4 linked regions of the Homo sapiens genome follow. The protein of the gene in region 3 interacts with the protein of the main gene of each other region in a pairwise test. Each region holds a gene or a part of one and is shown on either strand. Other genes may lie near its edges.

What was found.
Region 1: the proteins of MAST1 (region 3) and PRAM1 interact in a two-hybrid assay, tested with the Homo sapiens proteins (one study listed by BioGRID and IntAct).
Region 2: the proteins of MAST1 (region 3) and BLMH interact in a two-hybrid assay, tested with the Homo sapiens proteins (one study listed by BioGRID and IntAct).
Region 4: the proteins of MAST1 (region 3) and OGA interact in a two-hybrid assay, tested with the Homo sapiens proteins (one study listed by BioGRID and IntAct).

What each region holds. Positions count from the first base shown.
Region 1 is NC_000019.10:8,499,565-8,507,879, reverse strand, and holds the start of PRAM1 (PML-RARA-regulated adapter molecule 1), read left to right. Parts: upstream 1-5,239; 5' UTR 5,240-5,288; coding exon 5,289-5,315; intron 5,316-7,678; exon of another isoform or gene 7,679-7,735; coding exon of another isoform or gene 7,736-7,768; intron 7,769-8,099; coding exon 8,100-8,315. UniProt on the Homo sapiens protein: May be involved in myeloid differentiation. May be involved in integrin signaling in neutrophils. Binds to PtdIns(4)P.
Region 2 is NC_000017.11:30,288,495-30,296,245, forward strand, and holds the start of BLMH (bleomycin hydrolase), read right to left. Parts: upstream 3,451-7,751; 5' UTR 3,326-3,450; coding exon 3,313-3,325; intron 3,015-3,312; coding exon 2,817-3,014; intron 989-2,816; coding exon 879-988; intron 1-878. UniProt on the Homo sapiens protein: The normal physiological role of BLM hydrolase is unknown, but it catalyzes the inactivation of the antitumor drug BLM (a glycopeptide) by hydrolyzing the carboxamide bond of its B-aminoalaninamide moiety thus protecting normal and malignant cells from BLM toxicity.
Region 3 is NC_000019.10:12,862,413-12,870,035, reverse strand, and holds part of MAST1 (microtubule-associated serine/threonine-protein kinase 1), read right to left. Parts: intron 5,228-7,623; coding exon 5,089-5,227; intron 4,991-5,088; coding exon 4,858-4,990; intron 4,721-4,857; coding exon 4,555-4,720; intron 4,320-4,554; coding exon 4,218-4,319; intron 4,057-4,217; coding exon 3,934-4,056; intron 3,384-3,933; coding exon 3,274-3,383; intron 2,563-3,273; coding exon 2,384-2,562; intron 2,307-2,383; coding exon 2,059-2,306; intron 1,394-2,058; coding exon 1,187-1,393; intron 971-1,186; coding exon 741-970; intron 1-740. UniProt on the Homo sapiens protein: Microtubule-associated protein essential for correct brain development. Appears to link the dystrophin/utrophin network with microtubule filaments via the syntrophins. Phosphorylation of DMD or UTRN may modulate their affinities for associated proteins.
Region 4 is NC_000010.11:101,815,029-101,822,942, forward strand, and holds the start of OGA (protein O-GlcNAcase), read right to left. Parts: upstream 3,417-7,914; 5' UTR 2,995-3,416; coding exon 2,796-2,994; intron 925-2,795; exon of another isoform or gene 737-924; intron 1-736.

The sequences.
Region 1 (8,315 bases), 4.4 Mb from region 3:
AGATGGAGTCTCGCACTGTCACCCAGGCTGGAGTGCAGTGGCACCATCTCAGCTCACTGCAGCCTCCGCCTCCCAGGTTCACACCATTCTCCTGCCTGAGCCTCCCAAGTAGCTGGGATTACAGGTGCCCTCCACCATGCCTGGCTAATTTTTTGTATTTTTAGTAGAGATGGGGTTTCAGCATGTTGGCGAGGCTGGTCTCGAACTCTTGACCTCATGATCCGCCCGCCTCGGCCTCCCAAAGTGCTGGGATTACAGGCGTGATCCACCGCACCTATCTTCCTTGGACTTTTCATCCACCAACGTGTCCACCTCAGGCTCTGAGTCAAAGCCATCCAGGTAGACAAGCCAAGGGCCACCTGCCCCACACCTGCTCAGTGCCATGTCACCTCAAAGATGGACAGCTCTGGGCTCCAGAAGCCCTTCAGCCACTGCAAGGGGCAGGAGGGGATCCTCAGGCCCTTGGGACCCGTCTGTCTGCCCCACTGCCCACCGCCTCACCAGGGGCCTGAAGACTGCTCTGTCCTTGATGGGGCTGTGATGTGACGGGGCAGCAGCCTCAGCTGACGTGGCTTGGGCTGGGTGTCCACTCTCCCAGAACCTGTAGGCCCCAGCTGAGGTGGTTGTCAGGATGGGGTAGGACAGGCCATCAGGAGGCCCCCTAAGCTCCCCCTTCTCAGCCAGAAGCCTTGAAACCACCACTGTGGGACCCTGGAAAAGAGTCGACTTCCCTGCCTCCCAATTCCCTCGTCCTTAAAAGGGTGTCATGATGACTGGTGAGTCCTTTGGGGTGGACGCGAGGATGAAAAGAGAGGCTGCAGGGAGAGGAGGGGCTTGGGAAATGTCTGCTGAGAACTTCACGTCCCGAGCCCATGGCTGCCTGGGACTCTCTCGACCTGGGGAGGAGGGTGGGACAGGGTGAAGGGGCCCATTTTACAGATATATAGAGAAGGTGAGGCTAGGAGGCCTCTAGCCAGCCCCAGTTCCCAGTCAGCGGCACTGATTCTGCACCATCTTGGGAGCTGCGCACGGTTACCACGAGAAGAGAAAACCCTGCCAGCAGGTCCAGAGGACACGCCCCTGTTCCCGCATTCTGCAGGTCCCTAGATCTGGCTGTAGTCCAAGCCTCTCCCCCATCTCCAGGGACAGCGCTGTGTTCTCTGTCCCCCAGGCCCCTAACCCCTCTCCAGGGTCCCGGGGGCCCCCAGGAGTCTTTGTCCCCATCAGTTTCTTTATTCGGCCACCCCCAGATCTAGGCCACGCCTCTTCCCAGTCTGTCAGTATCTTTCCAGAGAAACCTAGAGCCAACACGTCCGTCCAGGGACCTCTCCCCTACCCCATCACCCACGGAGATGGGACAGCCCTTCCTGTGTGTACAGCGGGCCCACGGCCACCACACTACCCTCTGGAGTGAACTGACTGCCGCGAGGCCTGGGGAGCTGGCTCACCACCTGTCCTCCACCGTTCACCCTGTCCACTGCAGAAACGACCTCCTACCCTCAAGCCGGCCCCCAACCCCCATGCACAGGAGCCCAGCCCTCTTGGGCCCCGGCTCCGCCCAGCAGGGGGCGCCCAGGAATCTCAGACTCGGGGGAATGAAAGCCGGGAGAGCAGTGGGGATAGCGGGCAGGTTGGCTGGAAGCCGCGGGCTCGCGCTGAACAGCTCTGAGGCCGGCCAGAGGCCCGTGCCCGGCATTTGTCCAGCCCCAGCTGTCACTTGCAGGTGCCGGTCCGGTTACCCTCATTGCGGGCCAGGAGCGGGGAGGTGGAGGGCGCCCTGCGGCCCTGGGATCCGCCGCCCACGTGCTCCCCGGGCTCCTCCCCCTGCACACCGTTGTTCGCGTTTCCGACCCCGCAGATTCCCCAAGGCGCGCCCTAACGAACTCTCACTCCCCTGGTCCGGGCTCCCTTCTCCGGGATTCCGGTAACCCTATCTGTCCCTGTCTGCAGCCGCGCCGCGCGGAACCCTGCCGGGAGCCCCTACGGAGGCGCCAAATACACAAAGGGTAGTTGGCGGGGAGGCGCACCATGACTACAGCTCCGGGACCTGCGCTTCACCCCCACGGCGCCCCCGTGGGGCCTTGGTGCGCGCGCCCTGGCTGGACCCTCCTAGCTGCGAGAGTGCACGGGTAGTGACCAGCCCAGGCACCTGGGAATCCATCAGCTGTCATCCAATCCTTTAATTACCTTGATTGAGCTCCTTACTGTGGCCAAGCATTGCTTGATTTATTTATTTACTTATTTTTATTATTTAATTTAATTTTTTTTTTTTTGAGACGGTGTCTCGCCTTGTCACCCAGGTTGGAGTGCAATGGCGCAATCTCAGCTCACTGCAACCTCCGCCTCCCGGGTTCAAGCGATTCTCCCGCCTCAGCCTCCCAGGTACCTGGGATTACAGGTGTGCACAAACAGTATTTTTAGTAGAGACAGGGTTTCATCATGTTGGCCAGGCTGCTCTCGAACTCCTGACCTCAGGTGATACGCCCGCCTGGCCTCCCAAACTTCTGGGATTACAGGCGTCAGCCACCGCGCCTGGCCACTTGTTCTTTCTTTCATTCTTTCCTTCACTTGCCAAGGTTCTGGAGACCCACAGAGAGCCCATACTGTCCTCCCGAGACTCCTTTTTGGGAGGGCAACCCACATCTGGGAACTGTGCCCCAGGACAGGATGCAAAGGCACAACAGAGATGGCAGAATCCTGATGTCTGTGCTCTTAAAGGAGGCGTGAAAACAGGCAGGCCAGGCGCAGTGACTAAGGCCTGTAATCCCAGCACTTTGGGAGGCCCACGTGGGTAGATTGCTTGAGGTCAGGAGTTTGAGACCAGCCTGGCCAATGGTGACACCCCAGCTCTGCTAAAAATCCAGAAAATTAGCCGGGCATGTTGGCAGGCACCTGTAATCCCAGCTACTTGAAGCCGGGAGGCAGCCTGGGAGACAGAGCAAGACTTTGTCTCAAAAAAAAAATTTTAAAATGTTTTAAAAATACTTGCTCGGGCCACACCCCAGACTGATTAAGTCAGAGTTTCTTGTAGGTTCTGTTTTTTGTTTTGTTTTTTTTTAGATGGAGTTTTGCTCTGTCACCCAGACTGGAGTGCAGTGGAGCCATCTCGTCTCACTGCAACCTCCGCCTCCTGGGTTCAAGCAATTCTCCTGCCTCAGCCTCCCAAGTAGCCAAGATTACAGGCATGCGCCACCACGCCGAGCTAATTTTTGTATTTTTAGTAGAGATGGGGTTTCTCCATGTTGCCCAGGCTGGTCTTGAACTCCCAACCTCAGGTGATCAACCTCAGGTGATCCACCCGACTCAGCCTCCCAAAGTGCTGGGATTACAGGCGTGAGCCACACTGCCCAACCGCCGGTTCTTTTTTTTTTTTTTTTAACTGTTCAGGCAATTCCAACATGTGCTCAAACTGAAAACCAGGGCTCTCTACTCTCTTAGCAGGTGTTTTCTCCCTTTGTCTACCGTGACGGAGATTACTGATCTCCTGTGGGCTGAGCTCTGTGGTCAGGGCTTGTCCTTATCTGGCCAGTCCTCGGCACCACAAGTGACTGCCTTCACCCCCTCTTGGCCCCTGTCTCTGTCTCCTGGTTCCTCTTCTCTCTACTACCTCTAACCTCTGGGAATCTGGTGTGTCCTCGGGTCCTCAGACCCCCTCACTCCTCCAGAACTGCAAAGCCTTTTTTTTTTTTTTTTTTTGAGATGGAGTCTCTCTCTGTCACCCAGCATGGAGTACAGTGGCGTGATCTTGACTCTGCAACCTCCGCCTTCAGGGTTCAAGTGATTCTCCCACCCCAGCCTCCCAAGCAGCTGGGACCACAGGCGTGCACCATCACACCTGGCTAATTTTATATTTTTTGTAGAGATGGAGTCTTGCTACATTGCCCAAGCTGGTCTTGAACTCCTGGGCTCAAGTGATCCTCCTGCCTCAGCCTCCCAAAGTGTTAGGATTACAGGCGTGAGCCACCGTGCGTGGCCCAGGTGCAAGGCCTTTGACACCACTCACCCACCGACCCCCAAATCTGCTGTACCAGCTAAGCTTTCTGCCCAGGGCGGCAGCCTGGGACATCCATGGCCTGTGATATCTGCCCCAGAACAAGTGAGTCCTGCTCAGAGCCGGGAATTGGATTTCATGGAAGTGTTGAAATGAGGAAGGCGGATGAGCCAACCAGGGCAGACAGCAGAGGCCTCACCCGGTCACATGGGCCCCCACGTCCTGGGCCTCTGGGCCTCCCCAGGAGCCTCCTAAACCCCAGAGCTGTCCGTACCCCTGATCTGCTGAGATCTCCCCATCCTGTGGCTCTCTAGCCCAGGAGGTCACCAGGGCCTGGCATGGAGTCCTCCCTGGAGTCCAGAGATGGGGACACCAAAGTAGTAGGAATGATGGGGACTATAGAGAGTAAGAAACTAGTTGGCCAGGCGTGGTTGCTCACGCCTGTAGTCCCAGCACTTTGGGAGGCCGAGGCGGGCAGATCATCTGAGGTTGGGAGTTTGAGACCAGCCTGACCAACATGGTGAAACCCCGTCTCTACTAAAAATACAAAAAATTAGCCGGCAGTGGTGGCACATGCATGTAATTCCAGCTACTCAGGAGACTGAGGCAGGACAATCGCTTGAACCTGGGAGGCGGAGGTTGCAGTGAGTCGAGATTGCGCCACTACACTCCAGCCTGGGCAACAAAGTGATACCCCGTCTCAAAAAAAAAAAAAAAAAAAAAAAAAAGAAAGAAACTAGTGACCATGTTAGGAACATGCGGGCAACCAGTGCCCCAAGCTTGGGACAGTAGCAGGCAGGACAGGAATTCAAGCGAAATAGAAGTGCCCAGCAGGGGCCGGGGCAGTGGCTCACACCTGTAATCCCAGCACTTTGGTAGGCCGAGGCGGACCGATCCCTTGAGGTCAGGAGTTTGAGACCAGCCTGCCCAACATGGTGAAACCCCTTCTCTACTAAAGATACGAAAAGTAGCCAGGAGCGGTGGTGCGCGCCTGTAATCCCAGCTACTCAGGAGGTTGATGCAAAAGAATTGCCTGAACCCGGGAGGCAGAGGTTGCAGTGAGCCGAGATGGCACCATGGCACTCCAGCCTGGGCGACAGAGCAAGACTCAGTCTCAAAAAAAAAGAAGTGGCTGGCAGGATCTGGAGACGGACTGGAGCCTCCCCACCTCCTTCCCTTCCTCCTCTGCCCTCCCCCGCCCCACCTCTAGCAGCCCCCACCCTGTGTGCTGACCGTGGAGCAGAAGCCACAGTCACTTCCTGAAGGCAGCGGCCCCAGCTCGGGTCCCACTCATCCCATGGCCCATCACCTGCCTGCAGCCATGGTGAGTGCTGGAAGAGGCCTGTGCCTCACTGGCTGGGAAGCAAGGGACACAGATGTTCCCAGAAGGATAGGATCCACCTGTGGAGGGGCGGGCGGGGGGGCGGGGGGTGGCTGCGAAAGACATCTGGGAAACGGGAAGGGTCGGCAAAAAGGACCCGAGGTAGGCGGCCACCAGGCACACCCCAGGACAGCGCGGGCTCCTGGGGGTTCACGCTCAGGTTGGGACTGCGAGGGGGACAGATGGGACTCCCCGGGGGGACAACTCCCGTCTCCCCAGGTCAACATGAGCAGCCATGTGGGAACGGGCTGCTGGGGTGAGAGCAGTGCTTTCCTGCGGGGTGACAAAGTGGGTCATGACCCTCCCCCGTCCAGTCACCCAAGTTGTGACCTGCTAACCCTGACTTATCTAGCCCTGTGGTCGCCCGGGAGCACTTCCTTCAAACCACTCGGGGCTTTGACAGGGGCACTTCAGGCCCCAGGTGGGAATTGCTGCCTTTCCAAGGAGCAATCCTGGTCTCTGGTCCTCTGGATGGGGAAAGTGAGGCACACGCAGGAAGCAAAGGCCACACGTTTCTGCCCTTTCCCTCCCCCAATCTCCTTGACCACAGGTGAAAGGGGCGTTTGTAGGACTAAGGAGGCCTGGCCTTCTTGTGAATCTGCCTACCTCTGTGAGGAGTGGTTGCAGGGCCAGCTAGGAGGGCAGCTGGGACAGCTGGGTATGCAGGAGACAGCGCCTGTGCCCACGGTGTCTGCACCAATCCTCTCAGGCACTGTCAACTGTGAGCATTCCTGACCATCAGCCCGCATGTCAGAGACGGTGTGAGAGGGACCGCATGGCCGTCTCCAGGCATCTCTGTGTTTTCCTGATGGTCAGGCTGAGTACATGGCTGTCTTTGTGCTGCCTGAATATTGTTTATTTCAGCAAATATTTACTGAGCACCTACCATGTTCCAGGCCCTGGGAAGACAGCAATGAATGAGCCAAGTCTCTGCCTTGCAGAGGCTGAGGAACTGAGGGAAGTTGTGGTGTAGAGAGACAAAAAAAAAAAAAAAAAAAAATCAAGACACATTAAAAACAATGTAAAATAGTATAATACGTAGGGGTGGGTACGATGGAGAAAATCATGCATGCTGAATGCAGGGCAGTAGTGGGATGGGGTGATCCATTTAAAATAGGGTGGTCTAGGCCAGGCGTGATGGCTCATGCACTTTGGGAGGCCGAGGTGGGTGGATCACTTGAGGTCAGGAGTTCGAGACCAGCCTGGCCAACATGGTAAAACCCTGTTTCCATTAAAAATACAAAAAAAATTAGCCAGGCGTCGTGGCAGACACCTGTGATCCCAGCTACTCAGGAGGCTGAGAATCGCTTGAACCCAGGAGGCGGAGGTTGCAGTATGGCGAGATTCCACCACTGCATTCCAACCTGGGTGACAGAGTGAGACTCCGTCTCAAAAAAAAAAAAAAAAAAGAAAGAAAGAAAAATAGGGTGGTCTAGGTTGGGCACGGTGGCTCACACCTGTAATCCCAGCACTTTGGGAGGCTGAGGCGGGTGGAGGGTGGATCACCTGAGGTCGTGAGTTTGAGACCAGCCTGGCCAACGTGGTGAAACCCTGTCTCTAGTTAAAATACAAAAATTAGCCAGGTGTGGTGGCGAGTGCCTGTAATCCCAGCTACTTGGGCGGCTGAGGCACGAGAATCATTTGAACCTGGGAAGTGGAGATTGCAGTGAGCCGAGATCGCGCCATTGCACTCCAGTCTGGGTGACAGAGCAAGACTCCATCTCAAAAAATAAAAATAAACAAATAGGGTGGCCTTGGATGGCCTCTCTAATAAGAAAATATGAGAACAGAGGCTGGGAGGAGGAAAAGGAGAGACCCAGGTGGTGCAGAGACATGTCCTGGGTCAGGGACAGGGCAGAGGCCCCGAGGTCGGAGGGAAGTGTTCAGGGTGCAGGGAGGAGAAGGTGGCTGGGTAGGGAGGCTGGTTCGCCCAGGCTTTTATGAGGCATTTAGCTTGAACTGTGGGGACATGAGGAAGCATTGCCGAGTTTTGAGCAGAGGGACACAAACAGACTCAGGGTTCAACAGGCTTCTCCCTCCAGCTGCCATGGGGGGAACTGACCAGGGAAGGGGGTAGGCAGAGGCCCAGGGAAGGGCTTGTTAGAGTAATCCAGGCAATTGGTTGGGGGAGGGCAGACACTGCCTCCCACTACCTCCTGGGGTGACAGTGGTGAAGGCAGTGAGAAGTGGTTGGATTCCGGATGTGTTTTGAAATTAGCACAGAAGGGACTGGGGGCCTGGGCGCGGCGGCTCAAGCCTGTAATCCCAGCTACTGGGGAGGCCGAGGTCGGGGGAATCATTGGAGCCCAGGAGTTGCAAGCTGCAGTGAGCTATGATTGCACCACTGCTCTCCAGCCTGGGCAATGGAACGAGACTGGAGACATGCAGTGGGAGGGGTGAAAGAATGAGGGGGTCAAGGATGCTGGGGGGGTGGGGTACCACCCATGGGGGGAGGGCAGTGGGACTGGAGGCTGCAGGAGGGATGTCGGGATCTCCAGTGCTGCTAGAGGAGGTTGGGTGTGGAATCAGCACTAAATGGAGAAGTAGGGAGGGGTGTCGGTCCCAGGATCCTAGGATCCATGGGGGCTCCTGGGAAAGAGCTGAGGGCTGACCGGGCCTGGGCGCAGGGGTGGTGGTTGTGGGCTGTGCCTGAGGGTCCCCAGGCCCATCCTTCCATGCCCCTTCTGTGTGTTTGAGCCCCTGCCTCATTGGCTCTGCGTCTCCTAGGAGAGCCATCAGGACTTCCGGAGCATCAAAGCAAAGTTCCAGGCCTCTCAGCCGGAGCCCAGCGACCTGCCCAAAAAACCTCCGAAGCCTGAGTTTGGTAAACTGAAGAAGTTCTCCCAGCCTGAGCTAAGCGAGCACCCCAAGAAGGCCCCGCTGCCTGAGTTTGGTGCAGTGTCCTTGAAGCCCCCGCCGCCTGAGGTCACTGACCTCCCCAAG
Region 2 (7,751 bases), on a different chromosome or scaffold from region 3:
GGTGTGCACCACGCGTGGCTAATTTTTGTATTTTTTGTAGAGATGGGGTTTCGCCAGGTCCAGACTGGTCTCAAATTCCTGGGCTCAAGCAATCCTCTCACCTCAGCCTCCCAAAGTGCTGGGATTACAGGCATGAGCCACCAAACCAGGTCAGTAATATACATTTTGAAGATTAGGAAATGGAATATGGCCAGGAGTGGTGGCTCACACCTGTGATCCCAGCACTTTGGGAGGCCAAGGCAGGCAGATCACTTGAGGTCAGGAGTTCGAGACCAGTCTGACCAACACGGTGAAATGCCCTGTCTCTACTAAAAATACAAAAATTAGCTGGGCATGGTGGCATGTGCCTGTGATTCCAGCTACTTGGGAGGCTGAGTTGAGAGGATGGCTTGAACCCAGGAGGCAGAGGTTACAGTGAGCCGAGACTGTGCCACAGCCCTCTAGCCCGGGTGGCAGGGTGAGACTGTCTCAAAAAAATAAATAAACAAATAAACAATCAAATAAAATTATTTACTGTTTTTCAGACAAGTTCTTGAGAGGGAAATTAGGTCCTAGAAAAGAACAAATAACCTAAAAAGATGTTAAAAAGGGAGATATATTGAATTGAATATTGAATATAAAATTTAAAATTTTAAATAGACAAGCAAGCAGTAAGATGAGTCAGTAAACTTATTTCATTGCAAAAAAATGGCCACCTACCAACCAAAAACAGTTCTGCCTTTGAAAGAGTCAACTTTTGATACTCTGGAAGTCAGAATAAAAGGTGTCTCACCTATTATGAAAGGGCAGGCTATAACTGGAAAAGCTACAAAAGAAGAGGCAGTCCCTACCAAGGCTGATATCAATACAAAAAGAATCTTGCCAGATCTGTCCCATACCTTGTCCCAAAAAAACAGGTAAGATTGGCTAAACTCAAATTCTTCAATATTTAACTTTTTCATGAATGGAAGCCTCATAACATTCAGACAAGAAAAGATCCAGCATCGCCCTGAAACAAGAAAGCACATCAAGAAATTATGAGGGTTCACATAGACTGCACTGCTCCAACTGTATTTCCCACCAATGAACTCATGACACGATCTGGACAATTCAGAAAGAGTAAATCAGAAAGAGCAGAAAGATTAAAAACAAAACAAGAAAGGTGGTAATTATTATTAGCAATATATATGCAAAGGTTTAATATCTTTAACACAAAAACACTCTTTACGTATCAAATAAAGAATCCATTTTTCAGAGTAATGCCTTCTCCAAATTGTACTCTACTTCAAAATAAATTAACTGAGAGCGCCATTAGAAAAGTCTTTTAAGGTCTTAAATACAGGGAAATTATCTCTTTTCTGAGGGAAAATTCTGAGGGAAAAACTTTGACTTGTATTGGGTATAACCTTTTTACTAATATGAAAATATGTTTATAATATATTGGTAAGTGAAAAAGATAGGTAGCTTACATAACAATGTATAAGGTATCAATGCATATTAAACACTATTAAACACACACACACACACAAAACTTGACAAATATACAAGAAAAATATTTACTTGGTATTTACAAATATTCTACATTAAACAAAAATAATTTTGTAACAAGAAGAAAACTCTAGTTAACTATAGTGTTTTATGAAAGTCACTAGTGCCTATTAGTTCGTCTTTACCTTACATTTACCTGTATGTCACCTCTCTTCTATATGCTATATATTTCTAGTAGAGGGGATCTGGATGCACTGGTGATGTGAAAACTGCATGAAAATAAACTACACAACTCACATGCTATTTGGATCTTTTGTATGTAAAAGTGACACTGCAAAATGTGTAAGACCTGACCTGTTCCCTAACGGGTCACTGCAATCTAAACTATGTAGGACCACTGTGACATTACTAACTGGATCATCTGTAGCCTGAGAGCCCACACCACTCCAAGCACTTTCTTCTAAAGCAAAACATTAATTATTGTAAGGTCTTGACTTTTTCCTTAACATTTAAAAAATCAACTTTATTCAGGTATAATGTACATACAATAAAATGTACTCACGTTAAATGTGTGCTTTGTGAGTTCTAACCGACTCTAAACAAGCACTGATGTGCTTCCTGTCCGTATAGATAGACTGGGGGGTCGTTTTTAAGTATAGAAAGACTTTAAAAAATCCGTTTAGTACAATTTTGTTGTGAGAATGTGCTCCTTATTTAGATTGCTGGATATCCAATCTTTCACTATACCTGTTTTTTCTGAGAGTGGTGCTAGAAAGCAGATAGCAAAACGAGACTTCTTGACCAGCAAGGCATGAGAACAGAACTTTTTTCTGTATTACAAACTGATCTACTGGTGGGAACTGAGCCCATCAGCACATTAGCTTCAGTTGTAACCAAGAAGCATATTTAAAAGTAACATCTGATGACATTTTAATGTAATTACATTGTATCTTTTCTATTTCATAGTATAGGGCCTTCAGGGCATTTCTGGGGAGTCCTCCAAAGATATGAACATTTTCACATGTTCTGTTTTGTGACCAAGACCATACATCTCCAAGACACGGGCTACAAACCACACAGCATTGGAACATAATATAGTCAATTACACTCAAACGTATACTCATGGACATGTCACTTTTGTACTCTAACCGCATGTACTAACAAGCCACAGAACAGCAAAACAAACCACATGGGTAATGTTCTTAGACCTGCCTGTACCTGTGCCTCATTCTTTACGAATTTACGACCAGTTCTTTCAGTACGAATTTAAGACCACTCTTAAATAAGACACCAAAATGGGACGCTGTCAGGAAGGTCAAGGAACGTATGGGAGAAGTGGAAGCCCACACCTGAGCTCTTCTGGTTGGTGATTGGCTTGCCCTCCTGGGGCACGGCGTGCTGGAACACATGCTGCGCGCGCTGCACCGTGGCCCGCTTCAGACAGATGTCCAGCAGGTCGTGGGTGGTCCCGACATTCTGGGCAAGTACGAACTGGGGGTCGGAATTCAGTTTCTGTATCAGAGCAGCTACCTTCTCCGAATTCAGTCCTGTTGGGAGACCAAACAGGATTTTAACGCAAAAAGAGGGGGAAAGGGCTGATCTGGGGCTCCCGCGTCCCGAATCTAACTTCGTAAGCGCATCCTGGGGTGCCCGCTGCAGCGGGGAAACCCATAAGCGGCATCCTCCTCCAAGGAGCTGTCTCCCTCCAGGCCGATCCAGCCTGCCCCGAAAGCTCCCTCCCCGCCATCGCCAAGGGTCCCAGCCCCCGGCCTTCCCCGCCGCCGGGCCTCACGGGGACCGCGGAGCTCCTCCAGAGGACCGCGGCGGGGGACGGCGGCACCTCACCCGAGCTGCTCATGGCGCCCACGCTGCCCGGCGGGGTAACGGTAGCTTCCAGGGTCCTTGGGCGAGCGCCGGGATTGCGCTGCGGCTCGCTGCCTAGGGGGCCCGACCTGTCTCTCGCACCCGGAGCGCCGGAAAAAGGAAACCGGCTCGGCGGCGGCGGCGGCGGCGGCGGCGGGGAGGCTGAGGCTGGGAGAAACGGGGTCCGCGGAGGGACAAAACTCCCCCCTCGCGTTGCTGAGTCAGCGCCGTCGGGGCTGGCCCCGCCCGGGGGAGGGCCGACGGGGGCGGCCTAGCTGACGCGCTGGGTCCGCCAGCGCCCGGGGGCTGAGGCCGCGCCTGCCCCCGCGCAGGACCGCACAGATGGTCTGCGCGCCAGGGCGGCGCCGGCGCCTTCTCCCCCTAGGTTCCCGCCTCCGGGCCGCGCGGGCGCCCTCCCGGGATCAGGCCCGCTCCAAGGAGGGAGGCTGACGGGTTCCCTGTGGGCCCAGACCCCCAGTACTCTAGCATCGGGGAATCGTCCCCAGGAAGCCTTGTGAGAAGCCAAAAGGGAGCTCGAGGCGGGAGGGAGGAGCTGAGAGGTCCCATAATTAAGCGTCGGGCTTAGGACGGGTCGATATGTCACAAGGAATGCACCCGAAGGCTCTTCCTATAGGCTTCGTTTGCTGACCAATCACTGCATTCTCAATGGCAACTTGTTGCTTGGATTCTCATCAGAAGCAAATAATTGTCTTTGAGGGGGAATGGGAACCAAGCTCTTCCCCACCCACTCCAAAGCTACTACCAGAGTTCTACAAATAGACATCTGCTCATTTCAAGAACACTACCCATCTGGTCTTCACGGAGTCCACGAGTGGCTCCTGTATAGTCCAGCATGTCCCGTTGGGTTTAACTCAGGAGGATGACAGAGGCTAGCCGTATGCATCAATATTGTTTCGCCGAGTTCTCTACAAAACTAACTGATGCTCCCCCTCTAGGCTTTCAAGATAACTCAACAGTTTCCCAAAGTTTTGAGATTGTAAAAACCTTGTTTTTGTTGATTCCGTGTTTCATGCCCTGAAATCTCAGCCCTTAGTAAGATGCTGGGATAGAACCCACAGAGAGTAAAACAAAAACACTGAAACCCTGTATCTGCTATTCAAAACGATGAGGTTGAGTGTGTGTGTGTGTAACCTAGAATCTAGGTCTTCTTAGATTGAAAATCATCGCAGTTCTAAGGAACTCTGATATCTGGAAAAATCCATACTCAGGCACCAATCAGTCATTTGAGAAAGCACGGTTTCTATGTCCCTAGAGAGACTCGGCTAAAAATTGGGGCTATAACATAGCAACTATCTTAAGTGGGCCCATCAACCATCCTATTCTGAGGTTCTTTCAATATCTGAAAAAGAAGAGGCTGAAAATTATACAGAAAGAAATCACTGGTCCTTTCACAAAATGATGTTCAAGCATCCTGCCCAATTCAAGTCATAAATTTTTATTCAGTATCTAACATGTACTAGGCACTGGACAAACTGCTGATGACATAGAGACGAACAAAGCTTAATCTTGCCGTTAAGAAACTCAATGTAGTAGGAAAGAGATGCAAAACAACTTTTAGACTATCTGTAGTAGCATACCAATAGTGCTGTAGACTGTAGAAGCAATGAGGAGAGCACTGTCAATTAGGGCCAAAGGGTGCCTGAAAATAGAAGTGACAAGAGAGCATGATCTTGAAGAGTGGATGAGATTTTTACAAGTCAAAGAACAGGAGAAGGGCATTCAAGGCACCAGCGAAGGCGCAGTGAATAAAATCATGTTCAAGAAAGGGTGCATCATAATCGGATGTGGCTAAGAGCAAGGCATGTTTTGGGAGCAGAGGCAAGGTGTAGGACTGGAAAAGTTTTGTAGGTTTGGGCCAAGATATAAAGGGTTTTATGTTCAATGCCTGAGCATCTGGACTTTATCTTATGGTTAATTAGAAGACAAAATGGGTTTTGAAACAAAGGAAAAATATGCTCAAGTCTGTGTAAAAAAAGAAACCTGGTGGCAGTGGGGAGAGTAATTTGGAGGGGAGGGGCTCTGGAGATAGGGAAACTGGTTAGAAGGTTCTTCCAGTAGTGAACTTGGGAGAGGACAAAAGCCTTACATTGCGGAAAGGGAAGAGGCATTGATAATCTTGAAGTTTTCAGCGGAATAAGAAGATGGAAGGTGGTGTCATTAACCAAGAGAGGGCATACAGAAAAATAGGCATATTTGCATATTTGCAAGTGTGCAGATCTGAACTGAGTTTGGGCCATAGCAAAATTAGGATGCCCCACAGGACACCCAGGAAGAGAAGTTCAGGACGTAGATGAAAAGATGTCTAGAGATTAGATGAGACACATAGGTTCGAGGTGGAACAATGAAAGTCAGCAGGGTTACAGAGGGAAAGAGGATAGAGCAATAAAGAGATGAAGACCACAGATAGTGCCCTGGGCTGCAATGTGCAGTTGCACAGGGTGTTCATGGCACAAGGGCACCAGGCTGAGTGTGGTGAGTAGGGACTAAAATGCAGTCCAGGCTCTGCTTGCCAAGCCATGCACCCTGGCCCAGGCTGTGCACAGAGTATGATGTACCTTTCACTACTTTTTTTTTTTTTTTGAGATGAGTCTCACTCTGTCACCCAGGCTGGGGTGCAGTGGCATAATCTCGGCTCACTGCAACCTCCACCTCCTGGGTTCAAGCAATTTGCCTGCCTCAGCATCCTGAGTAGCTGGGATTACAGGCACGCACCACCATACCCGGCTAATTTTTGTATTTTTAGGAGAGACGGGGTTTCACCATGTTGGCCAGGCCGGTCTTGAACCCCTGACCTCGTGATCTGCCCACCTCGGCCTCCCAAAGTGCTGGAATTAAAGGCATGAGCCACCACGCCTGGCCCCTTTCACAACTTCTTATAAGGATGCCATATGGGAGTAGTATTAGCTCTGAAAATGATAATGTTTAAAGTATGGGTGAAGACAGAGGAGCCAGCAGAAATAGAAAGATCAGTCAGCGAAGTAGGAGACCCGGGGAGTTATGTCCTGGAATCCCAGGAAGGCAAGGAGAGGACAGTGAATTGAATTAAAAGCTGCAGAAAGTCAAGTAAGATTGGTTTTGGCAACTGGGTTACAGGCAACCTTAGAGAGGGCAGTTTTAGTGGAAGGGAAGGGTGGGCAGAAGCCACATCGTAATGAGTTGAGAGGGAGGTAAATATTAGGGAAGCTCTTTGGGGAGAAAGGGTAAATTTGTGTCTACTGGAGGATGAGAGGAAGGAACCAGTACAGATGAGAGATTAAATATGTGTCAGAGAGGATACAATTGCAAGAGTAAGAGCTCAGGAGGAGATGGAATCACTGGGGAAGGTGGAGGGGACCAGTTTTACAGCTATTGCCACCCTTTCCATACTGGCGATTACATTTCTCCACCCCATGCCCAGAGATTTCTATCATCATCTCTTTGCTGGCCTCCTGCTCTGTCCTCATCATCAGGGTGGCACCCTTATTACCAGATTTCCACCCAGCAATTCACACCCATGCACTCAGCCCCCATATGGGCATGGTGAGGAGGTACAGAATAAAACCGGTTTCCCAGTGGGTTACCCCCAAATGACCTACCCAGGAAGACATTTCTCCAAGAAGAAAATTCTGTGTTCTATCCTTCTTATTCCAGCCAGAAGAGATGTTGTACAGCCCGGTGACACCTCGTGGGACAAAGCAACCAGAAACAGAATTCTAGTATGAAGTCTCTAATATTAAAAAAGAAAATATTGCCTGTAATCCCAGCACTTTGGGAAGCTGAGGTGGGAGGATTCCTGCCTTGAGTTCAAGGCCAGGAGTTGAAGACCAGCCTGGGCAACATAGTGAAACTCCACCACTACAAAAAAAAAAAAAAAAAAAGAAAGAAAAAGTTTTATAAAAAATTAGCTGAATGTGGTGGCAGACACTTTTAGACCTAGCTACTCAGGAGACTGAGACGGGAGGATCACTTGAGCCCAGGAGTTTGAGGCTGCGGTGAGCTATGATCACACTGCTGTACTCAGCTCTCTCTAAAAAGAAAGAAAAGAAAATCTTTATAAATCCTGTGAGGCAGCACCATTTGCCACTGCAGATATGCCTTCTGCCTGTTGCTTCCATGCCACTCTACCAAGTTAAAGCAAACAAGGCCAGTCTCAAGGCAAATTTTCCACCCTGTGTCTCCTCCTTTGCTGTCCACCAATCTTTGACATGTGTTTGTCAACTACTTCTTTTTTTTTTTTTTTTGAGATGAAGTCTCGTTCTTGTCCCCCGGGCTGGAGTGCAATGGCGTGATCTCGGCTCACTGCAATCTCTGCATCCCAGGTTCAAGCAATTCTCCTGCCTCAGCCTCCCAAGTAGCTGGGATTACAGGCACCTGGCCACCATACCCAGCTAACTTGTGTATTTTTAGTAGAGACGGGGTTT
Region 3 (7,623 bases):
CTAATTTTTTGTATTTTTAGTAGAGAGGGGGTTTCACCATGTTAGCCAGGATGGTCTCGATCTCCTGACCTCATGATCCACCCTCCTCGGCCTCCCAAAGTGCCGGGATTACAGCCACCGCGCTCGGCCCAATTTTTGTATTTTTAATAGAGACAGGGTTTCACCATATTGGCCAGGCTAGTCTCAAACTCCTGACCTCCAGTGATCTGCCCACCTCAGCCTCCCAAAGTGCTGGGATTACAGGCCTGAGCCACTGCGCCTGGCCTATTCTCCCCATTTTGCAGATGAAGAAACAGTCTCGGCCAGGCACCGTGGCTCACGCCTGTAATCCCAGCAGTTTGAGAGGCCGAGGTGGGTGAATCACGAGGTCAAGAGATTGAGACCATCCTAGCCAACATGGTGAAACCCCGTCTCTACTAAAAATACAAAAATTAGCTGGGCGTGGTGGCGCGCGCCTGTCTGTAGTCCCAGCTACTCAGAAGGTTGAGGCAGGAGAATGGCTTGAACTCAGGAGGCAGAGGTTGCAGTGAGCCGAGATCCTGCCACTGCACTCCGGCCTGGCGACACAGTGAGTCTCCGCCTAAAATAAAAAAGTAAAAGAAAAAAGAAACAGGTTTAGAGAGGGAAGAGGCATAGAGGGTCACAGAGGTGTCTCACCCAGGCTAACTGGTTTGAGCTGGAGGGGCCTTTTCCCCACCACCCTCCACTCTGTGATGGAGACTCCACCCATGAGTACTCACCCAGACAATGTGGTGGACACTATAGACATCCGTGTCACCCATGTAGACACGGATGGCACGCAGTGTGAAGCCATACTTCTTGCCCGAGCGCTGGATGGTGATGGGGGAGCGGAGCCCACTGACAGCTGGTGAGTAGTCCCGGCTGGGTGAGGAGTCCCGTGAGGATGGGTTGGAGGACAGAGATCGTGGAGACATGGGACTAGCAAGGGGTGAACTTCCATGTGGGTCCACTACAGACACACAACCATGGTCAGAAATCAGAACCAAGAAGATAGACATCTCCCTGTATCTGCTCCTCCCTCCTCCCAAGGCAGTGGCAGAGCAGCCTCTCATTGGTCCAGCCTGGAGCCAATCACGGTGGACAGGGAAAATGCAGCATTTTCATTGGTCTGTCCTGCCTCAAATGGGGGGCAGCCCCTCCCCTGCCAGGTGGGGCCCAGCATTACCTGCAGGAATCATGACAGATAAGGCAGTGGCTGAGGCTGATTTGATGACTTTGCCCCCAGTTCGAGAAGGCCTCTTCTCTACTGCCACATCCCCTGACATCTGCTGGTGCCGCGCCCGGCGCAGAACCAAGTCATTGGTAGCCCTTGGGCCTGATGCATCCCCATCCTTCGAGGGTGGGCAGAGGTCACCTGGGCGTGGACGGTCAGCTGCAACAGAAAGCAAGTGTGTTAGGAATTAGTCCAAGGCCAGGGATTTCCCACATACTGTTTCCCTGCCTGGAATGCTCTTTCCACTTTTTACCCTTGATGGATGGTGAGTTTCATCTGAGCAGGTAACCTGCATGCCTCACTGCTCCTCATATAGAGACATAGTCTGTATCGGTCTGTATCACTGACTGACCATGGTATTGGGGTGTTTCTAATGTTAAGAATCCCAAATTGGGCTGGGTGTGGTGGCTCACGACTGTAACCCCAGCACTTTGGTAGGCCAAGGAAGGCAGATCACTTGAGGTCAGGAGTTCGAGACCAGCCTTGCCAACATGAAGAAACCCTGTCTCTACTAAAAATACAAAAATTAGCCGGGGGTAGTGGCGCGCGCCTGTAATCCCAGCTACTCGGGAGGCTGAGGTGCGAGAACCACTTGAACTTGGGAGGTGGAGGTTGCAGTGAGCCGAGATCACGCCACTGCACTCCATCCTGGGTGATGGAGTGAGACTCTGTCTCAAAAAAAAAAAAAAAAAAAAAAATCCCAAATTGCAATGTGAATAGGACCTGAGATCTTTCATAAACAGCACCAGGCTCGTGGGATGCTCACTATATGACCAGTAGGACATTGGGGAAGATTGGGGAAGGCAGCACGATAGGGCACTCACTGGCCTCGGAGTCCCCGGCGCTGGAGGTGCCTTCCCCTTGAGTCTCCTCTTTGGGGGCCCGTGCATCCAGGGATCCCGCGGGGTCGGAGCTGGGCCGGGGAGGCCTGCGCAGCCGGGCCTCATCCTCGTCCTCTTGGGGGGCGCTGAAGCGGCTGGGCTCCAGCAGCGCCGAGAAACGGCGGCGGGCGCCCAAAGGGGGACTGGCCTCTCCCTCCAGGAAACTGGCCTCGGACGCGGAGAATCGCTTGCTGCATGGAGGGGGCGTGGTTATGGAAGACACGCCCCCTTCGACCCCGCCCCCAAACTCCGCCATTCCCCTGCTCACATCTCCGGAGAGCCCCCTCTCCAGGTCTTCTCACGCAGGGTCAGGCCGCCCAGCCCCTCCCGCTTGCCGGCCACCTTCTCCTCGGGGCCCTTGGTGCTCGGCTCCCGCTTGCTGCTCCCTGCAGCTGCTACTGGGGTCTTGGGCTCGTGCTGCGACAGCTGCTCCATGCTGCTATACACCTGTAGGTGGTGGTGGGAGGCAAGTCCAGCCCGGGTTCCACTTTCACTCCGGAGCTAATCAGCTTCCTGGCAGTGGATCCCCCGCAAAACGCACTCCACCCTCCGAGGCCTGGCTCCGCCCAATTGTGCATGATCCCCCAACCTACAATTCTTCAGTTCAGGCCCCACACCACAAAGTTAGGCACTGCGTTTTATTCTAGGCTCTGCCCCGACGATGCCCTGACCAATCTGCTCTCTACACAGCCCCATCTTCCCAGCAACCCCCTTAATTTATGTCTCCTTAGCCCAGGCTAGGCCCTGCACGCCTCTACAAGTTGCTTCTCAAAGCAAGGCCTATGGCTTCTCTGCCCGTTATTAGAAAAAATAAAAATAAATAAATAAAAGCAAGACTTCGCTGGGCTTTACTCCGCCTTCGCTGCTGGCCTCATTCCCACGTCCTGACCCCGCCCCACCCACACCTAGCCCCGCCCCACCATGGCCTCAATCTGCACAACTGTCCTGATTCCTGTTAGATTCCACTCAGTGCCAAAGGCCCGTCCCATAGACTCCCGAACCTGCCTCTTGCGTGGCCTTACCACCTTCCAGACTCCCGCCCCATCAATAACTTCCCGCTCCTGAGACCTTGGGCACCAGGGAACCTGTTTCTCACTGTCTCTCCAAGCCCCATCCCTCCTGGGGTCTCGCCCTGTCCCACACCCAGACTTGGCCCACCTTGCTGAAGCGCGGAGAGCAGGAAGAGAACTGGCGGATTTCCACGGGCTCCTCCTCCGTCGTGTCATCCTCGTCATAGGAGTTCACGTGGTGATACCTGTCTGAGCGGGCTGGGGAGCGGGTATGGGCTGTGACTGAGGGTACGGGGTTCCTCCTCATATCACATCCCCACAGGAGCCCAGTCCTGGTTCAAGACGGGTTTACAAGTCTTCAGGTCAGGCCACGCCCCTGCCTCATTAGTGTATTTAATTTAGGCTCCGCTCCCAGGCAAGGTCCTTGCCCCATTCTCAGTGGCACCGTCTAGCCCCGCCTCCAAAGAGGCCACGCTCCACCTACAGTGCTCTGCACCCTGGCATCACCCCAGGCCATTCTGAGCGCTAGTACCTCTCTCTAGTTCAGTTCCAGGCCCACACTCACAACTCACCCAGGCCAGGCCCCACACCTAGCCCAATCTCAGGTTCTTACCTACATTTCAGCCTGAGCCCCGCCTGTATGTCAGCCCCGCCCCACTTGGCCCCGCCCCCACCAAAATACCACCTTCGCACCTAGGCATCACATCTTGGTACTTAGCCAGGCCCTATCCCAGGCTTTACTTACCCCAGGGTCCCTCTTCCCGGATCCCACCCCTCGACCCAGGTCGTGCCTGGTGTCCCAGCTCACTGTCAAAGTAGCTAGTGTCATCTTCCGACTCTAGGTGGGGGATGAACTCGGCCTTCTGCCTCAGCAGCCCTGTCCAGTCCAGGTCTCGAAAGAAACTGTGCTGCTTCACCTCAAAAGCGCCGCCTGGGACGGAAGGGATTCCAGCCACAGCTGATGGCCAACCCAGCAGCCCAGCCCCGCCCCCCATGTCTTCCGCCCCGGGGCCACAGCACAGGCTGGGCCTGGGGTTTTGGAGGCCTGCTCTCTATCAGTGGGCCCTCAGCTCCTCTGCATGGCGGACTTACCTGCCCCAAGCCTGACCAGAGGGTTGGTCTGCAGGAGGCTGGATATGAGGAGTTGGGCCTCCGTAGGTAGGGCCTCATCCCCCTCGGGCCACAGGATGTCATCTGCAAAACAAAACGGAACTTAGGGGCGGTTTTTGTTGTTGTTGTTGTTTGGACACAGGATCTCACTGTGTCACCCAGCTGGAGTGCAGTGGCACGATCATGGCTCACTGCAGCCTTGACCTCCTGAGTGCAAGCGATCCTCTGGGGGGTCGCTTTTGAAATCCCTGGAACCCTGAGCCTGTCCATCTCTCCGTGCACACCACACTCTGCCCCTGTACACTGCCAAGCCACGTACCACTGATGACCTGTCCAAATAGCTCCTCTGGTGTGTCTCCGAAGAAGGGCACACAGCCCACCAGGAACTCGTAGAGGATGATCCCCATAGCCCACCAGTCCACTGGCTTGCCGTAGCCTTGACGCAGGATGACCTCGGGCGCGATGTACTCTGGGGTCCCACACACCTGGGGGCAGGCTGTCAGCCCACGCCCCAGCCAGAGGAGGGCCCTCAAGGGAGAGCTGTGCCCCCCACCAGGCCCTGGGTTCCCGAGGTCCTGCAGGGTCACTCCACCCTCAGCGACCCCCATGCCCGCACACACACCTGTTTGTCCAGGAACTCTCGGGCGTCCTTCTCGATGTGGCCTTCATATAAGTTGGTGGTGAGGCTCATGAGCCCCATCTTGGAGAGGCCGAAATCTGTGAGCTTGATGTGACCCATGGAGGTGATAAGGAGGCTGTAGGCACAGGTGGGGATCTCAGGGATGAGGCCCGTCCATTCTGCCTCCTGGCCTCCCGAGGGACAGAGGGAGTGATGGGAAAGATCAAAGCTCACTTGTCAGGCTTGAGGTCGCGGTGCACGATGCCATAGTTGTGCAAATACTCCAGGGCTAGCACCGTCTCAGCAAAGTACATGCGGGCCATCTCTACGGGCAGCGCTCCAATATTCTTCAGCAGGGTGGCACAGTCGCCGCCTGCAGGCCAGGAAATGGGCCCGCATAAAAAGGGAGGCATTCCTCTCTCTGGACATGCACCATAGCACCAACTTCTCATGTTATGTTGTACCCGTTTTATAGATAAGGGAAACTGAGGCTCTGAGAGGGGCCTCCCTCCCTCCAGGTCCTCTACTGGGTTCTTCTTGTCCTCTTAGCCATCCTCCAAAGTTGGTGTCATCAGCTCATCTTATACACAAAGGGATGGAGACTCAAAGAAAGGATGGGTCATGCAGGCAGTTGTTGGTAGAGGTGAGGTTTAGTTGGGGAACAAAGGCTACCCACTTATCAACTGCATCTGGAAGCACAGCCCTCTATCTCCTGGTGTCTGAACCTTGGAGCTGGAAGCCTTAGATGCAGATTCTTGGTCTTCACTAGATTTTTTTTTTTTTTTTTTGAGACAGGGTCTTACTCCATTGCCCAGTCTAGAGTGCGGTGGCAAGATCACAGCTCACTGCATCCTCAACCTCCCAGCTCAAGCAATCCTCCTGCTTCAGCCTCCTGAGTAGCTGGGACTACAGATGTGAGCCACCATGCCCAGCTGATTTTTAAAAAATTGTTCAAGGCTGGGCATGGTAGCTCACGCCTGAAATCCCAGCACTTTGGGAAGCCAAGGCGGGTGGATCACTTGAGGTCAGGAGTTCGAGACCAGCCTGGTCAACATGGTGAAACCCCATCTCTGAAAAAAGAATACTAAAGTTAGCCTGGCTTGTTGGCAGACGGCTGTAATCCCAGCTACTCGGGAGGCTAAGGCAGAAGAATGGCTTGAACCTGGGAGGCAGAGGTTGCAGAGATCCAAGATCGCACCACTGCAGTCCAGCCTGGGTGACAGAGCAAGACTCCGTCTCAAAAAAAAAAAAAAAAAAGTTTTTTGTAGAAACGAGTTTCATTGTGTTGCCCAAGCTGGTCTCCAACTCTTGGGTTCAAAGGATCCTCCTGCCTCAGCTTCCCAAAGTGTTGGCCACTGCCTCTGCCCCTCTGCCAGATTTACTGTAATTGGCATTGGTATTTCAGTTTCTCAATATCTATTTCCTTTTTATCCTACAAAGGCTAGATTTCCTTCCATGTGCAGCAACCGGGGCAGTATGTAACCCAAGTTGCTCCAGTGAGTTAGCCCTTGGAATTTTCACTCTTTTCCTGTAAGAATTGCTAAGCTCATAGAATGTAAGCTGAGATCTGCTAGATGGCAACCTTGCTACATGAGGGCTTGTCTAGAAGGAAGCCCACATGTGGGAGTACAGAGCCAAGAGATGGAGAGTTTCCTGATGGAATGGTTTGAGCACCTACATCCAGCCATTCCTGAAGGTAATATTGGTTTTTCAATCACCAATGACCAAGAAAGCTAATGATTTCTTTCTTTTTTCTGTTCTCTTTTCTGCGAGATTTTGCTGGTTTCAGAAACTCTCTGAGGGTGGGGCCCAGGAATCTGCATTTGAGCACATCTATTGTGCACACAGACCCACCATAGAGATACTGATTTGGCCCCCTTCTCTCCTCCTCCTCTGCAATGAACCTGGACTAGAGCAGTCATCTACCTCCTAGTCTCCTGATTCTGCTCTCTCCACAAGAGCCAAATGGATTATCTTTTCTTAATTTTTTTCTTTTTCTCTTTTTTTTTTTTTTTTTTTTTTTGAGTCAGAGTCTGGCTCTGTCACCCAGGCTAGAGTGCAGTGGCTCCATCTCGGCTCACTGCAACCTCTGCCCACTCACCGCCCCCGGGTTCAAGAGATTCTTGTTCCTCAGCCTCCCGAGTAGCTGGGATGATAGGCGTGCACCGCCACTCCTGGCTAATTTTTGTAATTTTAGTAGAAACAGGGTTTCATTGGCCGGGCACAGTGGCTCACGCCTGTAATCCCAACACTTTGGGAAGCCGAGGCAGGCACATCACCTGAGGTTGGGAGTTCGAGACCAGCCTGGCTGACATGGAGAAACCCCATCTCTACTAAAAATACAAAAATAGCCAGGTGTGGTGGTGCATACCTATAATTCCAGCTACTCAAGAAGCTGAGGCAGGAGAATCGCTTGAACCCGGGAGGAGGAGGTTGCGGTGAGCCAAGATCACGTCATTGCACTCTAGCCTGGGCAACGAGTTTAGCCAGAGCGAAACTCTGTCTCAAAAAAAAAAAAAAAAAGGAAAAGAAAAAAACAACAACAACAGGGTTTCACCATGCTGGGTAGGTTGATCTTGGACTCTTGACCACAAGTGTTCTGCCTGCCTTGGTCTCCCACTGTAAGTGCTGGGATTACAGTCGTAAGCTACTATAATGGGCCTCCAAATGGATTTTCTTAAAACATAAATCTGATCATATCAAATCTTCTTAAAACCCTCCATTAGCTGGACATGGTGGTGCCTGCCTGTAGTTTCAGCTACTTTTGGA
Region 4 (7,914 bases), on a different chromosome or scaffold from region 3:
CCATGAAGAAGGTTAATAAAAGCATTCTGAACACAAAATGTTCTACATAAACCCACACAATCTACATAAGAGACTAGTCTAAAACAAATTTCTGCAATGTATTTTAGCTCCAATCTCTAGGCAGAATGACTCCTCTGCACCACAAAAAGGACAATGACAGACCAAATTAAAATTCATTACATACCAATGTATAACTGTAGCACTTTCATCTGGACAATCTAATGTTAGCCTCTCACAAGTGATACAAAATATTCTTTTTTTTTTTTCTCAGGCGGAATCTCACTCTGTCGCCCAGGCTGGAGTGCAGTGGCACTATCTCGGCTCAATGCAATCTACGCCTCCAACTCCCGGGTTCAAGCGATTCTCCTGTCTCAGCCTCCCGAGTAGTTGGGATTACAGGAGCCCGCCACCACGCCCGGCTAATTTTTTCTATTTTTAGTAGAGACAGGGTTTCGCCATGTTGGCCAGGCTAGTATCGATCTCCTGACCTCGTGATCCGCCCGCCTCGGCCTCCCAAAGTGCTGGGATTACAGGCGTGAGCCACCGCGCCCGGCCAATATAAAATATTCTTGATCAGGCAGACCTATACAAGTCTTTAGCATCCCTACGGCACTTAGCATTATCATTTTTTTTTTAAGGAGTAGGCATTAAACATCCTTTCAGAGTTGCTCCAATATAAAAAAAGACTTTTCAAATGTCTAGCTTAATTAAACATTTTAATCTTTAGAAACCCTACCTTGGCTCTTTTGAGAGTCAGGTTCATGGTTTCGGTTGACTGGCACCACAAAGAGGAAGCAATGCTGTTAATGTAAGTTAAAAACCAAGAGAGTTTTGTGATGGAAAGAAAACAAAAAAGAAATCCTAGCAGTAACTATAGTATTTCTATGCTCATTCATTTTACGGCTGGTGCCAACCAAGAGGTATCAAAAAGAGAGAAAAAAAAAAAAAAAAAAAAAAAAAAAGCCAGGCGCGGTAGTTCACGCCTGTAATCTTAGCACTTTGGAAGACCGAGGCGGGCGGACTGCCTGAGCTCCGTAGGTGGAAACCTGCCTGGGCAACACGGTGAAACCCGTTTCTACTAAAATACAAAAAATTAGCCGGGCCCGTGTCTGCAGTCCCAGCTACTTGGGAGGGTGAGGGAGGAGAATTGCTCGAACCCGGGAGGCGGAGGTTGCAGTGAGCCGCGATCACGCCACTGCACTCCAGCCTGGGCGACAGAGCGAGACTCCGTCTCCCAAAACAAAAACAACAAAACACACAAAAAATCAGTGCTGGCTCAGGTGCTCAGTCACTAAGAAAATATACAAGGGCACGGGAGGGAGGAGGAATAAACGAGAGAATGGCAGACAACTCTGTTCTTTAAATAGGAAGAATCGCCTTTTAATGCTATTCTAAACAAACGAATTTAAACCAAATGAGTTTTCTCCTTTTATAACTGAAGGTATAATGGACTGGCAAGTTTCCTTAGACTCATTCCAGTCTAGCTCCGAAATTTCCCAGCACTCTCTCATCCCCACTCCAAGATCTTTGATAACAAAAACCAGATTCTTTTTCTAAAATCTCCCTGCACTCAAGCCAATAAATACAACGATATAAGTCACACAATGCAATCATTTTTGATGAATACTATATAGCAGTTTTCCATTCTGTAATCCCCCAAATTCTGCAAGACAGTTAACTTCGCTGAACTCTTTCATGCCTTACTGTAGCAGCAAAGTAGCCTGTTATGGTCTGTACCATAACCACCACCCATTTTTCGAAAGAATACTCTAATTTATATGGTGAAAAAAAACAGAAAAGCTGATGTTCTCAACGTCGAGAGCAATCCTTTTTCCATACCTTTTTGGTTTTTTAAATATATATATTTTTTACCCTTATCCACGCCATTACATACGAGAGAGATATAAAACAGACATCTAGGAAACTCTGAATCGGCCAAAATACTTCAGAAAATTCAAATACATGCTGTAACTGCGGAAAGACTAATAATGTAACCGATTCGTGCCTCTACAGAGCTGCAAGGTGGACTATCTGTCCATTCTCATCCAGAAACTGAAACAAGCATCTGGTAATTTTCCCTCACTACCAAAAAGTCCATCGTTCTTTTCGACTGTAAATGGGAAAAAAGGCGAGAAGGGCATTTTTAAAGCCGCTTCTGCGGTCACTAAATTCCAATTACGCATCTCAGATACTTCGAGAATCTGTGATTAAAGCCAAAGTTTCATCCCTCGAGAGCAAAGTACAGTAGCTGGGAAAGAGGGCAATTTTCTAAGTTGCAAATGAATCTTTGCGGGGGTGGGGGGAAGCAACAAAAATATTCTAAGCCAAGTGGAACTTGAAATACTATAGGCCAAACGTGCTTCTCTTCACTCCAGAAGTACAAGCACGTCAGTGTGGGCCGATTTTCCACAAAGGGTGGTGACAGAAGCACTACACATATTTTTTCACTGGAACCAGACAACCCTAGGGAATAAGATCCCAAGGTACAAAGAAGTAGAACTCAGAGGCTAACAGAACACCAGGCTCTTAACCACCGCCTCCTTAGGAGGTGGCCTGGCTCCAAGCCCAAGACGGGTGGGGTCAGACTTGTGAGTGGCCAGGGGGGAATTCGACGCCGTCTTAAGACGTGCAAGGAGATTCGCCCAACATCTCGTCTCTCCCCTCGCTTTAGGAGGGCCACATTTCAGACCCAGAGGCTTTCCGGCCTTTTAGAGTCTCCAAAATCCCCGCCACCACCCTCCTCCCGAGGACAGAACGTGTTAGTGCCAAAACGGGGAGGGAAGGAGGGCGCTCACCTTCCACCACACCGCAGAGGAACCGCCGAGCCCCTCCTGCAGCCCCGGCCACCGCCGCTCCCCCAGCCCCGGCGGGGTTGTCTTCTCCGGGTGCCGGAGCTGCCGGCGGCTCCAGCGATGCCCCCGCAGAGGCGGCAGGGTTGGAGCTGAGCTCGCTCTCCCGCTCCTCCAACGTCGCTTGACTCTCCTTCTGCACCATCCTCCTGCCCCCGGCCGCTGCCACCTCTGCGGGTCCTCCTCGACCTCTGTCCGTTGGGGCACCGGCCCGGAGCCCTGGAGAGGGCTTCAGCTCCAAGTGTGCGCCCCTCCGGCTCCTTCCCCTCCCCCTCTGCCCTTCCCCCTCCCTCTCCGCAGGGACCCGAATGCCCGGATGAGAAGGGCGGCGGCACCGGCGCGAGCCCTTTGTCAGCCGCAGCCTCGGCTTTAAGCTGGGGCGCCAGAAGCCTAAGCGGAGAGCGAGGCTGTGACCTCTCGTTCCCTGGAAGAAGACGGCCAAGGGTCCTGTCCTCGTTCTCTGCCTCTGCTGCCCTCCCGATAATCTTAGGTCTTCCGCTGTTTCCCCTCCAAGCCCCGAGCTCTCCCTCTGCTGCTGCCTCCACCGCCCGCTTCCTGTTTATCCGCACTGCGCTTGCGCTGCAGACCGGCTCAGACCGGTCCCCTCCGCCCGGCTCCCCCGCCTTCTTTGGGGCTAGCCTATTAAGCTTCTTTAGGTAGGGGGAAATAGAACAGGAGACGCGAAAAGCAGAAGGTAATGAAGGCAGTGGAATGTACCATTTCTGCTTGCCACCCTCCGAAACAAGCCTGGCACCCTGGGACGGACGGACCATTACCCGCCCCGAAGGAGGGGAGTATGGGAGGAGGCTGCCGCCGGTTGGGGCAATAGGGAGAAGGGGGGAAGGTGAAAAGGAGAGGTGTTTATTCTCTCAGTGCGCAGGCGCGGAGCCGCGGCCTCTCGTTCTTAAAGAGATAGGAAAGAACTGACCTACTTTCTATGGAGATTCTTGTAATAGGTGGGCTCATTACATCTGCCTAACCCAGGCTTGGTTCGGTAAAGACACCATTCCAAGGAGCTCAGCTCACCCCTCTGCCTTGAATCATTTTCCCCTAATCCCATTTAAAATGTAATCATTCGTTCATTCCTTCATTCAGTAGACATCTATAGAGCTTGCCTCGTGCTGGGCTCTAGAACACTATGAGCTCACAGTACGGTGGTGGAGACAAGCCACCACACACGCAGTTCCCACAAGGTGTCCCCAAGAACTTCGGAGCTCAGAACAGGTGATACTCACTCCTCCTTTGGGGAGAGGCCGTGGGCATGGCTTCACTTTTCAGCTGGATTATAAAGGATGTGAAGTTAGCCTGACTGAGCAGAAGGGGAGGGAAGACAGCACTCCAGGAAAGTGGAACGAACAACAGAGTCCAAAGGTAGGGAGGCATGAAAAGCCTGCCTTGTTTGGGAATGGGGAGCGCGCGGTGTGTGCAGTGGGGCATGAGATCCCTTCGGCCTCGGCATGGGCATCGCTTCCTTGGGAAGCCTTCCCTGAGCCCTAGATGGGTTTGGGTCTCCTTGCTGTATGTTCTCAGAGCTCTCTTGTAGACCTACCCTAATGCACTTTACATTTATGATGCTTGAGAAATCTATCTCAACCTGTGAGGTATAAACATGAAATGATGATTAAGACTTAGTAATGTCCATCTTACACTTCAGTCTGATATTTACCTTCTTTAGCCGTAGCCCAACTTGTAGTTTCAGGGACTTTCATGGTCCCTCTTCTTTTCAGTCCTGGATTGTTGAGATGGGGGTTAGGAGCAAACTTTTTTTTTTTTTTTGAGACAGAGTTTCACTCTGTCGCCCAGGCTGGAGCGCAGGAGCGCAGTGGCGCAATCTCGGCTCACTGCAGCCTTCACCTCCTGGGCTCAGGCTATTCTCCTGCCTCAACCTCTCGAGTAGCTGAGACTACAGGCACCCGCCACCACACCCGGCTAATTTTGTGTTTTTAATAGAGACGGGGTTTCGCCACGTTGACTAGGCTAGTCTTGAACTCCTGACCTCAGGTGATCCACCTGCCTCGGCCTCCCAAAGTGCTGGGATTACAGGTGTGAGCCACCGCGCCCGGCCGGACAAGCATTTTCTTAAGGGACCTCCTGTGCTGAGAGTTAGGGGCCATAGCAGCTTTACTGGATATTGTGGTCCGTTGGGGTTGAGAACACAATTTTTTTTTTTTTTTTTTTTTTGTAAGAGAAGAGGTCTCATTTTGCCACGCAGGCTAGTGCAATCATAGCTTAAGTATCGAATTCCTGGGCTCTCAAGGGATCTTCCCGCCTTAGCCATCCCGAGTAGCTGGGACTATAGGCGAGTGCCCGCCACCACACTCTTTTAATTTGTTCATTTTTGGTAGAGACGGGGGTCTCAACATCTTGCCCAAGCTGGTCTCAAACTCTTGGGCTCAGGTGATCCTCCAGTCTCAGCCTCCCAAAGTGCTGGGATTACAGACACGTGCCACCTCACCTGGCCGAAAAGAACTTTTATCTGAGGAATGAGAGTCCTTTTAAATTATCAGGCCCAGATGGCTGGGCGCAGTGTTGGTGTTTGCAACCAGCCTGGGCAATATTGCCAGACCCAGTCTTTATAAAAAAATAAAAATAGGCCGGGCGTGGTGGCTCACACCTGTAATCCCAGCACTTTGGGAGGCCGAGGCAGATGGATCACCTGAGGTCGGGAGTTCGAGACCAGCCTGACCAACATGGAGAAACCCCGTTTCTACTAAAAATACAAAATTAGCTGGGCATGGTGGCAGATGCCTGTAATCCCAGCTACTCGGGAGGCTGAGGCAGGAGAATCACTTGAACCCGGGTTGCGTGAGCCGAGATCGTGCCATTGCACTCCAACCTGGGCAACAAAAGCTAAACTCCATCTCAAAAAAAAAACAAAAAAAAAAAAAAAAAAAAAAAGCCAGGCGTAGTGGTGTGCACCTGTAGTGCTAGGATCTCACCACTGCACTCCAGCCTGAGCCACAGAACAAGACCCTGCCTCTAAAAAAAAAAAAATTAAAAAATAAATAAATCTTTAAAAATTAAAAATAAATAAATAGGCCCAGCGAGGCATTAAAATGACAGAATCAGCCGGGCTCAGTGGCTCACGCCTGTAATCCCAGCACTTTGAGAGGCCAAGGCGGGCAGAAAGTCAGGAGTTCAAGAATAGCCTGGCCATCATGTTGAAACTCCGTCTCTACTAAAACTACAAACAATAGCTGGGCATGGTGGTGCGCGCCTGTAATCCCAGCTATTTGGGAGGCTGAGGCAGGAGAATCACTTGAACCTGGGAGGCAGAGGTTGCAGTGAGCCAAGATCGTGCCACTGCCCTCCAGCCAGGGCAACAGAGTGAGACTCAGTCTCAAAAAAAAAAAAAAAGAAAAGAAAATGACAGAATCACATCCTATGCCTCCCTCCTTTGAGCTATGTATTCATCTCTTGACACTGCTTGCTCTTGCCACAAGTAGCTATAAATTAACCTAATAATGTTGTACTGGACATTCTAACACACACCCTATAGTTTAACAATGTATAGCCAATCAATAGCTTATGTTATTTTAATGTAAACTGTTGGTAAATAACTCAGGAACTGCCTCTTCTTTCCCTATAAAAATCCACTTGTAACTGCTGCTAATCAGAGTGTCTATTTAGGGCAACTTGAATCTATGCTCTTTCGTTGCAATCCTCAAGCTTATAATAAACTCTCTACTTGTATTCATTTTGCCTCAGCTTCTTCCTTATAGGTTGACAGGAGATTTGGGGGCTGTCATTCTGGCTGATGTCCTTAGTCTCATGACATTTTCCTCTTTGCCTTAATCACTGCCAGCAAGTCAGCAGCCACAATTTCTCCTACTTTCCATAGTCCAGTCTCATAGGGAAGGTTTGCCCCATTTCTGTGTCCCTCAAATTTGAAGAGTGGTTCTTGCCACATAACTGCTATACACTTTCTCACCATACCACACCTCTCTCCACCCACCCCCAACACCTACAACAGTAACAGTGCTTAGTAGACCTATGATGAATATTTGCGGAATGAATGAGATAGGGCCCTGCCCTCACAGATTTTACATTCTGTTTGGAGAACCAGACAATAACAAATTCAGTACACACATAGGAACTCACAGTTTGTGGTAAGGGCTATTAAGGGAAGAAACCTGCCAACTGCATCAAGGAGGAGCTACTTCAGATGGACAAATAGGAAGGAGTAATTTAGGTGAGTAGCAATAGTGGCTTGGGCTAGGAAACAGCATCAGAGAGAGAGAGGTGGTGTACCTTTGGTGGTAGAATTGGTGATTGATTAAATGGGGGTGGAGGGAGAATGAAGGAGAGGAAGAAATGGAGACTTCTAAATTTCGACCTGAGCAACTAGATGGATGTTGGTGTCATTTACTGAGATGGGAAAGACTGGAAAGGCATGAATCTAAGCTCCATTTTGAACATGTTAAGTTCAACCATTACAGGTCCACATTAATATATCAAATAGGCAATTGGACTAGGCACGGTGGCTCATTCCTGTAATCTCAGCACTTTGGGAAGCTGAGACTGGAGGAGGATCACTTGAACCCAGGAGTTCAAGAGCAGCCTGGGCAACATAGTGAGACCCCATCTCTACAAAAAATTAAAACATTAGCAGGGTGTGGGTGGCACACACTTGTAGTCCCAGTTACTCTGGAGGCTGAGGTGGGAGGATCGCTGGAGCCCAGGAGTTTGAGACTGCAGTGAGCTGTGATTGTACCACTGCACTCCAGCCTGGGTGACAGGAAAAAAAAAAAAAAAGCGGGGGGCAATTGGATAGACAGGTTTTGGATTTCAGAAGAGAGAGTTCTGGGGATATAAACTTAGGAGCCTCTGCATATCGACGGTGTTTAAAGCCATGGGATTAGGGGTGGTTTGGAAAAGAGGCTTAGGTCTGAGCTGTAGGGCCTAAGATTTAAAATTCAAGTTGAGAAGGATGAGTCTATAAGGGAGGGCTGAGAAGGGGTAGCCAGAAGGGCACGAGGAAAACCAGGAGCGTAGGAAATACTGGAAGGCAAGAAAGGAGAGTATTTTGAGATGGAGCAGCTGACAACACTCAGAACCCAACCAA